Linked DNA regions of Homo sapiens. The protein of the gene in region 1 purifies or fractionates together with the protein of each later gene. This does not show direct contact. Each region holds a gene or a part of one and is shown in the gene's direction. Other genes may lie near its edges.

Region 1 (3,644 bases):
CCGAGGGTGAGTGACACGTCCTGGGGGAGGGGTAGCCGGGTGCCGAGGGTGGATGACACATCCTGGGAGAGGGGTAGCCGGGTGCCGAGGGTGGTGACACGTCCTGGGGTAGGGGTAGCCGGGTGCTGAGGGTGGGTGACACGTCCTGGGGGAGGGGTAGCCGGGTGCCGAGGGTGGGTGACACGTCCTGGGGGAGGGGTAGCCGGGTGCCGAGGGTGGGTGACACGTCCTGGGGGAGGGGTAGCCGGGTGCCGAGGGTGGGTGACACGTCCTGGGGGAGGGGTAGCCGGGTGCCGAGGGTGGGTGACACGTCCTGGGGGAGGGGTAGCCGGGTGCCGAGGGTGGGTGACACGTCCTGGGGGAGGGGTAGCCGGGTGCCGAGGGTGGGTGACACGTCCTGGGGGAGGGGTAGCCGGGTGCCGAGGGTGGGTGACACGTCCTGGGGGAGGGGTAGCCGGGTGCCGAGGGTGGGTGACACGTCCTGGGGGAGGGGTAGCCGGGTGCCGAGGGTGGGTGACACGTTCTGGGGGAGGGGTAGCCGACAGGGGGCAGGTTAGAGTCCCGATCTTGGCCAGGGTCTCAGAAGTGTGTGTGGCCTGGGCAAGCAGCCCCCGGTCTCGTCTGGGGGTCTGCGGGGCTAGCTTTGGCTGCGGTGACCCCACTCCCTCCCCAGAGCATCCCGAGGGCCCCGTCTTCGGACGAGGAGTGCTTCTTTGACCTGTTGACCAAGTTCCAGAGCAGCCGCATGGACGACCAGCGTTGTCCCCTGGACGATGGCCAGGCCGGGGCTGCCGAGGCCACGGCCGCCCCCACCCTGGAGGACAGGATCGGTGAGTGCCCCCCTCAGCCGGGCCCTCCCTTGGGCTTGTCTGCAGGGGCCAGGACCAGGGCTCCCGTCCTGCTTCCAGTGAGGAGTTTTCGGGGGCAGACCAGCAGGCCAGCTGCAGAGCACCCTGTCACTGAGGGCGCCCTCCGCAGCCCCCACAGAGCAGCATCCCGGGAAGCGTGTCATCAGCCCGCCCTCCGGGACACACTCAGGCTGCAGGGGCAGTCTCAGGGAGGGGGCAGGGCGTGGGGGACTGGCGTTCTCCTCCTGTCTCCTCCTGTCACCCCCTGGAAGCCCCTGAGGTGGGCGTGGGAGCCACAGCAGGGGGAGCAGCTGAGAGCTGCCTAGGCCGGTCAGCGGAGACTCCCCCAGGAGCCATGGCCCCAGCAGCACAGTGGGCTGGGCTGGGCTCAGAGGTCAGAGCTCACTGTGGCCGCAGCCCGAGCCTCGGGCTTGACCCCGCACTGGGTCCCAGGTCTCACCCTCTGGCCCCCCGCAGCCCAGCCCTCGATGACGGCCTCGCCCCAGACCGAGGAATTCTTCGACCTCATCGCCAGCTCCCAGAGCCGCCGGCTGGACGACCAGCGGGCCAGCGTGGGCAGCCTGCCGGGGCTGCGAATCACCCACAGCAATGCAGGGCACCTCCGAGGCCACGGCGAGCCCCAGGAGCCGGGGGACGACTTCTTCAACATGCTCATCAAGTACCAGGTGGGCTGCGGCCCTGGGCGGGCGTGGCTCGCGGCCCCTTTGCCATCCACGTGTGTGGAGGCAACTTGTGTCCTGAGGGGTGAGGTGGGCGCTGGTTCTGCCATCTCCGGTCATGTTTGAGGGACTCCTGGGGGACTCAGCCAGTGTCACCACATGACCAGGGGTGTCTGAGCCTGAAGCCCTACTCCTGGGAACCCCGGGCTGCTGGAGACACCAGAGACCCCCCCTGGCAACCCCAGGACACTCCCAGGCTGTGCCACCCCCCTGCCATGCAGGAACTCGGGGTGGGGGCTGGGGGGTCACAGGTCCTGGAGCTCATGGCCTCAGGGATTCCCCACCAGCCCTCCACACCCGGCAGGGAAAACACGGGCCAGATAGCACCCCCAGAGTGGGGAGGGCAGGGGGATCCAGGGCTGCCAGCTGGCTGGTGGGACAAAAACAGGGACCATCCAGGGACCACACAGTGGACGGCATGGGCGGAGGGTCCAGCCCCAGAGGGCAGAGCCAGGGCCGGGGCTCCAGCCTGGCAGCCACGCCAGGAATGACCTCCTCATCTGTGTGGGGGTGAGCCAGGTAGGGTGGCCGGAGTGGAGACTGCTGAGCCAACTGCTATCCCAACTAGGACCTCAAACTCTGGGGGTCTCGCCATCCCTGTGGGGTGCAGCCATTGCTGGGAAGGGGTTCAGGGTCCGTAGACTTGGGAACAGGCTGGGGGTGGAGGCCGCTTGGCCCACCACGAACCAAGCCAGCACGTTTCCAGGTCTGCCGTCCTCCCCACAGCAGAGAGGAAACCTCGGCCCGGGGCCAGGCGTCCGACCAGCCACCTCCAAACCAGCCCCACCCAAGAGGCCCAGAGTCCCCCATCCACACGCATGCCTGCGCCAGCTCCCGTCCCTCCTGCTCCAGGCGCTTCAGAGAAGCCCAGACAACCCCTTGGCCCCCTGGCCTGCACACTGGAGCAGGCGAGGCCCACGGGGTCAGCCACCTGACACAAGGGGAAGCCCTGGGGGGCGCCACACTTCGGGCTCTGGAAGCTGAGACCTCAGGCCTGCCAGGGTCAGTCCCAGGCTGTGCTGGTTTCCAGGGCTGGGCAGAGGGACGGCCACGCATGCCCGTCCCTGGGGATCAGCAGATGTGGGGAGCAGGCATCCAACGCCGCCCTAGCCACTGTCTCCTGGGCCTGGCACACCCATGCCCAGTGGGAATCGCTGGACCTGCTTTTCCTGGGCGGGCCTGCCCTGGGCTCCTGCGGGTTGGTGGCGGGGCCACCAGAAGACTGCGCTCAGGGCCCGGGCTCCCAGCACAAGACCCCAGAGCGAGGCAGGCCCCAGAACCAATTTCCTGGGTGGACAGGGGGAAGCCCGTGAACAGTGCACGCTGGCCTCTGGAACCACCGCTGCTGACCAGCCCCGGACCACTGGGGCTGGGGGGGTGAGGCCGCCAACTGCACTGTGTCCACCCAGTCCTCCAGGATCGATGACCAGCGCTGCCCGCCACCTGACGTACTGCCCCGGGGCCCTACCATGCCGGACGAGGACTTCTTCAGCCTCATTCAGAGGGTGCAGGCTAAGCGCATGGACGAGCAGCGGGTGGACCTCGCCGGGGGCCCGGAGCAGGGGGCAGGCGGCCCGCCCGAGCCCCAGCAGCAGTGCCAGCCTGGTGCGAGCTAAGGCCCTGTGCCCACCGCCAGGCCCACCCTGCCCCCACTCCTGGACGCCGGTCTCACAGTCACAGCCACGTCCTCCCGAGGCCATTGCCGAGGACAGGCACTGGGCATGCAGCCCCACGGCCTCCCCGACCCAGGGCGACAGGCTCAGGCCAAGCTGCCCGTGGTGGGAGGGCGTGCTTCCATCCCGGGCTGGCCCCCATGGCCCTCAGCTTCCTCCCTTCTGCCCCTGCCGCAGGCCGGACGGGGCCTTCGGCATGTCGGCCCCGACCTGGTGCTGTCAGACTCCCGCATCCTCTCCCCCAAGCCCTTCCCGTTCTGCCCTGCCCTGCCAAATGTGAAACCCTGCTGTCTCCCCCACCCTCCCCAAAGGTGTCTCTGAGCCGCCTCTTGGGGCCACCAAGGACAGGGCCATGTTCTGTCCCCCCAGAGCTGGTCTTGGGA
Region 2 (4,093 bases), on another chromosome or scaffold:
CAGTCTAAACTCAGCCTCATGTTGTTTTAAGCACAGCTACCCAAGTCTTTACAAGTCAACTAGTGAGCTTTGTTTTTGTTCTTCCCATTATTTACAAAACATATATTTACTGACAAATTGAAAAGGACTTTCCAAAACTACAGCAGCACTTTTCAAACATGAAAAAAAAAAAAAAAAAACTATTGTGTTGTCCAAAAAACACATTAGCAATTGGCTTTGGGTCTTAAAGGACATGAGGATAGTTGGTTACTGTGTAAGACAGGTGAATTAATTATAGAGTTTTGGGTAAGAAAACCCTTTTTCCACTTTCTAAATCTTCAAGGATACCTTATCTCCTTGATAGCTCTAGGTTTAACAGGTATTTCTGACTGGCTTTTGGGGAGACAGTGAAGTTATTCTAAATCATCCACATCAAGGCAAGCATTTCTTTCCACAACCTATTAGGAAATATGGAATTGAATACAGAGCTTTCCATTATTCTTAAGCGATTTCGGACTGACTTTCTTCTCACCACTTGAAAACTGTCCTGGAATTTTCACTATCTTTATATAAATAAATAATTTAGTAGAGAAATAAACAATCAGATGCAAAAGAACATTACGCTTTGCTTACATGTGAATTTTCCTCAAAATAATTTCTGAATAATCGTGAAGTGGGGGCTGTGTTTTCGTTTCTAGCTCATTGCCAAAACGCGTGGAGATGGATCCTAAATCCTGGAAGGAGAGAGCTCGGCGCGCTCAGGCTCCTCTTTAAGTTGGCGGGCGATTGTTTAGAAGCTTTGGAAAAAATTACCAGTCCCCGCGGACGAAATGGAATGTGAGACATGCAATCTAACGGTAGTAGTAGAAGAGAAGTAGATGATCTCCCTCTCCTTTTCCGATCGCCACTTCTGTGTCCCCGGCTTTTCCTCTCCGTCCCTCCCACAGTTTCTTTCCGTATCCTCCCCCTCCCCTCCTCCTTTCCTCGCACGCTCCCTCTCCAGTGTCTCGCGCTCTCGGAGTCTCTGCTCCGAGTTCCTGGTTGGATAATTTGGGTTAATACTAGTGAGTGAGGTTTTTGCGGCTTCAAAGGGTATTTCAAGTTTCCGGAGCTCCTCCCCTCTGCACCGTGTGACAACAACAACTCGTCCAGCCGGCAGCCTGCACTTTTCAGCTCATTTTCTCTCTGTCATTCCCCTCTCAATCTTTGATCAATGTACTTGCCAGGGAGAGCCCAAGTCCTTCAAACCTCCTCCTTTTCACCTTCATCCTTAACTTTGTGCTAGAGCGAGACCCACACAACAACAGCCGACCCTCCCCGCCCCACCCCCACCCCCAAACCAGCCCTCGATCCCAGCCCCCGGAGAGGACTCGCATTTCGACTTGCGGGACACTTTTGTGCGTTCCTCTCCAGAGCGCCTCTCGTGCTCGCCCCTCTTGCGCTCGCTCTTTATTACCTTCACCTCCTTTTCTCCCCCTTCTCTCCCTTTCTCCTTCTCGTTCTCTCCCGGAGTTGTTGTTGCCCCCCTCGCTCCTTCTCCCCCCTTTTTTCCCCTTCCCCTCCCGGGGGTGTGTGGCAACTTTTCCTCTCGCTTCTCCTCCGTCTGTTTCCCCTTATATGTGACCATGGCAGTGCCGGCGGCTTTGATCCCTCCGACCCAGCTGGTCCCCCCTCAACCCCCAATCTCCACGTCTGCTTCCTCCTCTGGCACCACCACCTCCACCTCTTCGGCGACTTCGTCTCCGGCTCCTTCCATCGGACCCCCGGCGTCCTCTGGGCCAACTCTGTTCCGCCCGGAGCCCATCGCTTCGGCGGCGGCGGCGGCGGCCACAGTCACCTCTACCGGCGGCGGCGGCGGCGGCGGCGGCAGCGGAGGCGGCGGCGGCAGCAGCGGCAACGGAGGCGGCGGTGGCGGCGGCGGCGGTGGCAGCAACTGCAACCCCAACCTGGCGGCCGCGAGCAACGGCAGCGGCGGCGGCGGCGGCGGCATCAGCGCTGGCGGCGGCGTCGCTTCCAGCACCCCCATCAACGCCAGCACCGGCAGCAGCAGCAGCAGCAGTAGCAGCAGCAGCAGCAGCAGCAGTAGTAGCAGCAGCAGCAGTAGCAGCAGCAGCTGCGGCCCCCTCCCCGGGAAACCCGTGTACTCAACCCCGTCCCCAGTGGAAAACACCCCTCAGAATAATGAGTGCAAAATGGTGGATCTGAGGGGGGCCAAAGTGGCTTCCTTCACGGTGGAGGGCTGCGAGCTGATCTGCCTGCCCCAGGCTTTCGACCTGTTCCTGAAGCACTTGGTGGGGGGCTTGCATACGGTCTACACCAAGCTGAAGCGGCTGGAGATCACGCCGGTGGTGTGCAATGTGGAACAAGTTCGCATCCTGAGGGGACTGGGCGCCATCCAGCCAGGAGTGAACCGCTGCAAACTCATCTCCAGGAAGGACTTCGAGACCCTCTACAATGACTGCACCAACGCAAGGTGAGTCGGGGGGGATAGCCCCCGCCGCCCGCGCCCCTTCCCACCAGCCTGCTCGCCTGCCCTCGCTCCTTTCCCGGCGCCGCTCGCTCTGCGCGCCCGCGAGCCGCGCGCCCCGGCGAGCGCGGCCCTCTCCTCTCCCTGCTCGGGGCTCGCCAGCCGCGCCCGACCCCCTGAGAAGTTGGCACCTCACCCTGCCCAGACCTCGCTCTTCGGCCCGGTCCTCCCCTTGCCCTCTGGGTCCCGGGGATGGGCTGCTGTGGGATGTGGGAAAGCCGAGCCTCGGGGCGGAGGGGACGAGAGGGAGGAGGACGGCGCCTTTGCTGGAGCCACAGCCCCCTGCCCCGGGCGCGCGGGCGCCTGGAGACCCCTCTCAGCGCTGCTGTCCGCGTTCGTGCGCTCCCCAGGACCTGGGTTCCACGGCCAGCCTCCCGGCACCGACAGGGCTGATCTGTGGCGCCGAGCGGTGTCCCGGGGGCGGGGGGAGGTCGTGACCTGCTCCGCAGGGCTCGGGGAGCGGGGAGACGCGCTCCGGGTGAGGGCCCCGCTGGGAAAGGCGAGGGAGCGGACCAGCACCCGAGGAGGGCACTTTGAGGTCGGGAGGGAAATGACCCGCGAAGCTGAGAGACCGGGTCCATCCCGGGGGATGGGCTCCGGGGACTTGAGCTCCGAAGCCCGGAGGGGAAGCCAGCCGAGGGGAGGGGTCTGTGTGTTCGCGCATGTGTGCGTGTGTCCGCGTGTGAGCGAGTGCGTGTGCAAAGGAAATAAAGGGGTACGGTGGCCCCGGGGCAGATGCGAGGGCAACCAGCAGGTTTTCTTCGGTAGGGGGAGGTGACCGATTGCCCGAGACTCAATGGAAGCTGAACTGGAGAGATTAGGAAGGAAAGCCACGGAGCGCGCTCTCTCTCGATCTCTCTTTCGAGTTCTCTGTCTCTTTCTCTCCAAAGTGTGTTTTCTTTCTGTCTTTCTCTCTCTTTTCTTTTCTTAAAGGTTAGTAGCTTAAGCAGCGAGCAGGTGCACACTTTGCACTGGGATGCTCAGCGGCCCTGATACTCTGTGCCTTGGCTTCCCCAGCCCAGCAAAGCGCGCGCACGGAGGAGGCGGCGGGACCGGTCCCCAGCCAGACCAGTTTTATGCTAATGAACGCTCAGTGGGGGAGGATCTACCAAGAGGGGGCGGGAGTGGGGCAACTTGTCAGTTTCGGGGTAGAGATGATCATTCCACCCCCTTTCACAGCGCCGCTTTGTCCCCACGGTTCTCTGCAAGGAAGCGCAGAGGCAAAAGTTCAGAGTGAGATTCCGGGAGAAAGAAAATAGGGAAAGTTGAAGACCTGAAGCGGGCACGTGGGAACTGCGCGCAAAATTTGCGCAGAAACTTCGGTACCCTCCAAATAAGTTTGAAGATTGAGAGAAGGAGCGGAGTTAGTGTGTGCTCCCGCAGAGATAGGGAAACTTAGGTGGAAAGGAAGTGTAGCAAGGAGACCAGAAGGACATTGGGTTGAAAAAGCGCTAGCTCTTTTTTCCATGGAGAAAGACTTCTTCTCTGTTAGTGCCCGGGAAGGCTGTGAAACGAAAAAGATTCGAATTCCAGTCCAGCAAATGTCCTATCCTGACCTAGCCAGAAATTCTTTTCCGTGTTTAGGTA
Region 3 (3,644 bases), on another chromosome or scaffold:
AGGTGGATTGCATTGAACTCAGGAGTTTGAGACCAGCTTGGGCAACGTGGTGAAACCCCATCTCTACAAAAAATTAGCTGTAGTGGTGTGTACCTTTAGTCTTTCTTAGCTGCTCAGGAGGCTGAGGTGGGAGGATCACTTGAGCCTGGGAGGCAGAGGCTGCAGTGAGCCGAGATCGTGCCACTGCACTCCAGCCTGGGCAACAGAGTAAGACCCTGTCTCAAAAAAAAAAAAAAAGAATCAGACGTAGTTTCAACTGAGACGGTCAGCCCGAATTGCTGTGTTAGCTTCAGGGATCTAGAACATAAGGACCAGTATATTTATTTTTTTCTCTCTTTAATAAAAAGCCTTCAGTGGGAAGGACTAGTATAAACGCATGGGCTAGAGCTGGACGGGACTGTAGAGAGCATTTACTTCACTGATTTTGAAAACTTTATTGTAGAGCCCAAGGAGTAGCTCTGTAGCAATATAATGGTGGGACCGGGGAAAGAGCATGCAAACCAGGCTCTGCACATTTCACTACTTGCCACCAGAGCTGTCCTGGGAAATCTATTTTGTCTCTCTTTCTTGTCAAAGTCTTCCTTCAGTTTTCTGGTGACTCCACAGTGTTTTTCAAGTAAACAGACACTGAAAAACTGGTTGGAAGCTTTTGGGTGTGAGATGTTTTCTTGACTGGTGGGCCTCCCTGTCAGGCAGTGGTTCTTAAACTTCAGTGGACGTCAGAATCACCTGGTGGCCTTGTTAAAACGCTGGTTGTTGGACCTCACCCAGAATTTCTGATTCATTAGGTCTGGCATGGATCTGAAAACTCATATTTCTGACAGGTTCCCCTGTGATGCTACTGTTAGTCTGGGACCACGTTCTGAGAGCCATGGTTGTAGGGTGATGGACCTGTCGTTTTTCTGTGGGATGTGTTCAAAGTCCGTAGATCTTCCTCCAGGCTTCTTCCTAGGTGGTATAAGCCTGGCTGTTATTTTGGGAGCCTTATGGTAGGAGAGGTCTGGAGGTTCTCCCTTCTGTATGCAGACTTTCACTTAATCCCCCTAAATGGTACCACTTCCTTGTCTTCTGTGGTGCCCTGGTTACCCAGATCCAGAGGCTCTTGTTCATCCTGTCTGAAGAGTAAACCTCCAGTCTTCTGCAGTTGCTTGTCTGGGGAGGGGGACCAGTACTTCCTGATTTCGGCCCTTCTTCTTGCTCACAACTTCAGAGGAAACTGGTACCTCCAGTGGTTCCATTTTGGAGGGGATTCTTCAGTGGCTTGCCATCCGCAATACTCAGTATCCTCTAAGTCAGTTACTACTCATGTGTCTTCTTTTCTTCTTCTAAAATTTTGTTGACCCTTCTAAAATTTTGTTGACCCTTCTAATGTGCTGTCTCTCTCTGCATCTTTTTCCTTCAGAGCTTTGCTGTTCCTTGATCATCAGTCCGAAAGGCGGTATCACACAGACTCTGCAGCCACACTGCCTACGTTTGAGTTCTGGGTCTGCCACTTGTTAGCTGTGAAAATGAGCAGCTTCCTTAAACACTGGTGATTCTCTGTCTCGTCTGTAAAATGCACATCACCACCTACTTGAGTGTTGAGGATTCAATTAGTTAATGTACTTCAAATAATCATGTAGTAAATGCTCAGTAGTGTGTGTGTGTGTGTGTGTGTGTGTGTATTTTTTTTTCTCTCTTTTTTTTGAGACAGAGTCTTGCTCTGTTGTCCAGGCTGAAGGGCAGTAGCGCAATCTTGGCTCACTGCAACCTCCGCCTCCCAGGTTCAAGCGATTCTCCTGCCTCAGCCTCTTGAGTAGCTGGGATTATAGCTACATACCACCATGCATGGCTAATTTTTGAATTTTTGTAGAGACAGGGTTTTACCATGTTGGCCAGGATGGTCTCAAACTTATGACCTCAAGTGATCTGCCTGCCTCGGCCTCCCAAAGTGTTGGGATTACAGGCATCAGCCACCACGCCCGGCCAGTAGTATATATTTATTAATAATAACTTAATGGAGTTTCTAGAAGGAGTGGAGATAAATTCATGTGTTCAACCTGCCATTTTGAATTTGTTTTAGCTTCTGTTGAACTTTGAATGATTTTATCTGGACAAAATGTTCATTGCCTTAAATGACTTTGCTGGCAGGACACAGTGGCTCACGCCTGATCCCAGCACTGTGGGAGGCCGAGATGGGCAGATCACGAGATCAAGAGATCAAGAACATCCATGCCAACATGGTGAAACCCCATCTCTACTAAAAATACAAAAATTAGCTGGACATGCTGGCGCGGGCCTGTAGTCCCAGCCACTCAGGAGGCTGAGGCAGCAGAATCGCTTGAACCTGGGAGGCGGAGGTTGCAGTGAGCCAAGATCACGCCACTGCACTCCAGCCTGGGGACAGAGTGAGACTCTGTCTCCAAAAAAAAAAAAAAAAAAAAAAAAGACTTTGCCAACCACTGCACTAATTCATTAGCCTGCTCTTTACAAATGAAGACCCAAGCCCAGAAAGGGAAGGGACTTACTCAAGGTCACAGGTTGAGTTAAGCAGCACTGGGACTAGACTCTTCGTCTCCATATTCAGGGTCAGGTGTTCTCTCATGCTCTCCTGTTGCATCTTCTGTCACTGACGGTAAATGAACTGATTTCAGCTGCTACCACGTGAATTAATCTACCTCAGGTCTACTGTATTCATCCTTAATGGCGTGTCATCTTTTCTATCTTCCTGAATTTTAGGGAGAACGTGAAAATAAATATTAGCAGGCATGCCACATTCTCAAAATTAACTGCCAACACTTGAACCTAGGCTTAATTTCCTTTTGGAAAATATTTGAAATTTAAATTCACTGGAAGCCTGTCGGATAGTGAGATAGAGGCATGACAGAAAAGAGTAACATATTCATTTAAAAAAAATCACATTCTGTATCTCCCATGGCTTGAACCTGTTATGAGAAAAAGCCCATGGTCCTTTTCCTTGGCAAATCATTTTATCTTAAAAGTTATGAGGATTGTAGTGCAAGACTTGTTGGCATAAGGCTTGGCCTAGGTAGAGAGATTTGTGTCCATGGACGCTCTCATCCCTTCTTCCCAGCGTTGAGTTTCGTGTCCTTTGCTCTGGGCTGCCAGGAGCCCAAGGCTCAGGAAGCATTGTCTGATTCATCTGGGTCTAGCCAGTTGGGCACACTTGCTAGGTTTAATGAGTTTTTCTTCTTATTCATGAGATTTGGAGCCAGATTTTATATATTTATTTTTTCCCCTATGCTTCTGTAAGGCATTGAAATTCATATATTTCTGCTCTCCCTTTATCTCACACATTTATTTTCTTTTTGAGTGACAGCATAATGAGGTCACCAAACCTGAGTATTATTCACAGGGCCATAAGCTTAAAGGAGAGAGGAGCTCCCTATATAGACACACACCCTTTATTTTGCAACCGCTGATAAATGGTTCCTGAAAGATCTGCTGGCATTAGTCTTCTCAGCATTTTCCCAAGGCCCCTGCTGAGGTTTCGAACCTGGCTCTGATAATTTAGCCCTCAGAAGGAAATGTTTTTTCCATGGGTGAAAGGTACAGTATTAGAATATTTCCTTGTGTTACCCACTAAATGTAGGCACACAGTTTTCACGAAATTGGCTTCAAGAGCTACACATTTGAATCTGGAA

The links.
Region 2: the proteins of GPSM1 (region 1) and DACH1 purify together in Homo sapiens (affinity purification with mass spectrometry; 2 studies listed by BioGRID and IntAct, with this or other methods). This does not show direct contact.
Region 3: the proteins of GPSM1 (region 1) and KLHL18 purify together in Homo sapiens (affinity purification with mass spectrometry; 2 studies listed by BioGRID and IntAct, with this or other methods). This does not show direct contact.

The regions. Positions count from the first base shown.
Region 1 is NC_000009.12:136,355,017-136,358,660, forward strand, and holds part of GPSM1 (G-protein-signaling modulator 1), read left to right. Parts: exon of another isoform or gene 1-6; intron 7-673; coding exon 674-830; intron 831-1,325; coding exon 1,326-1,534; intron 1,535-2,997; coding exon 2,998-3,204; 3' UTR 3,205-3,644. UniProt on the Homo sapiens protein: Guanine nucleotide dissociation inhibitor (GDI) which functions as a receptor-independent activator of heterotrimeric G-protein signaling.
Region 2 is NC_000013.11:71,864,281-71,868,373, reverse strand, and holds the start of DACH1 (dachshund homolog 1), read left to right. Parts: upstream 1-1,169; 5' UTR 1,170-1,604; coding exon 1,605-2,452; intron 2,453-4,093. UniProt on the Homo sapiens protein: Transcription factor that is involved in regulation of organogenesis. Seems to be a regulator of SIX1, SIX6 and probably SIX5.
Region 3 is NC_000003.12:47,285,818-47,289,461, forward strand, and holds part of KLHL18 (kelch-like protein 18), read left to right. Parts: intron 1-1,418; exon of another isoform or gene 1,419-1,531; intron 1,532-3,644. UniProt on the Homo sapiens protein: Substrate-specific adapter of a BCR (BTB-CUL3-RBX1) E3 ubiquitin-protein ligase complex required for mitotic progression and cytokinesis.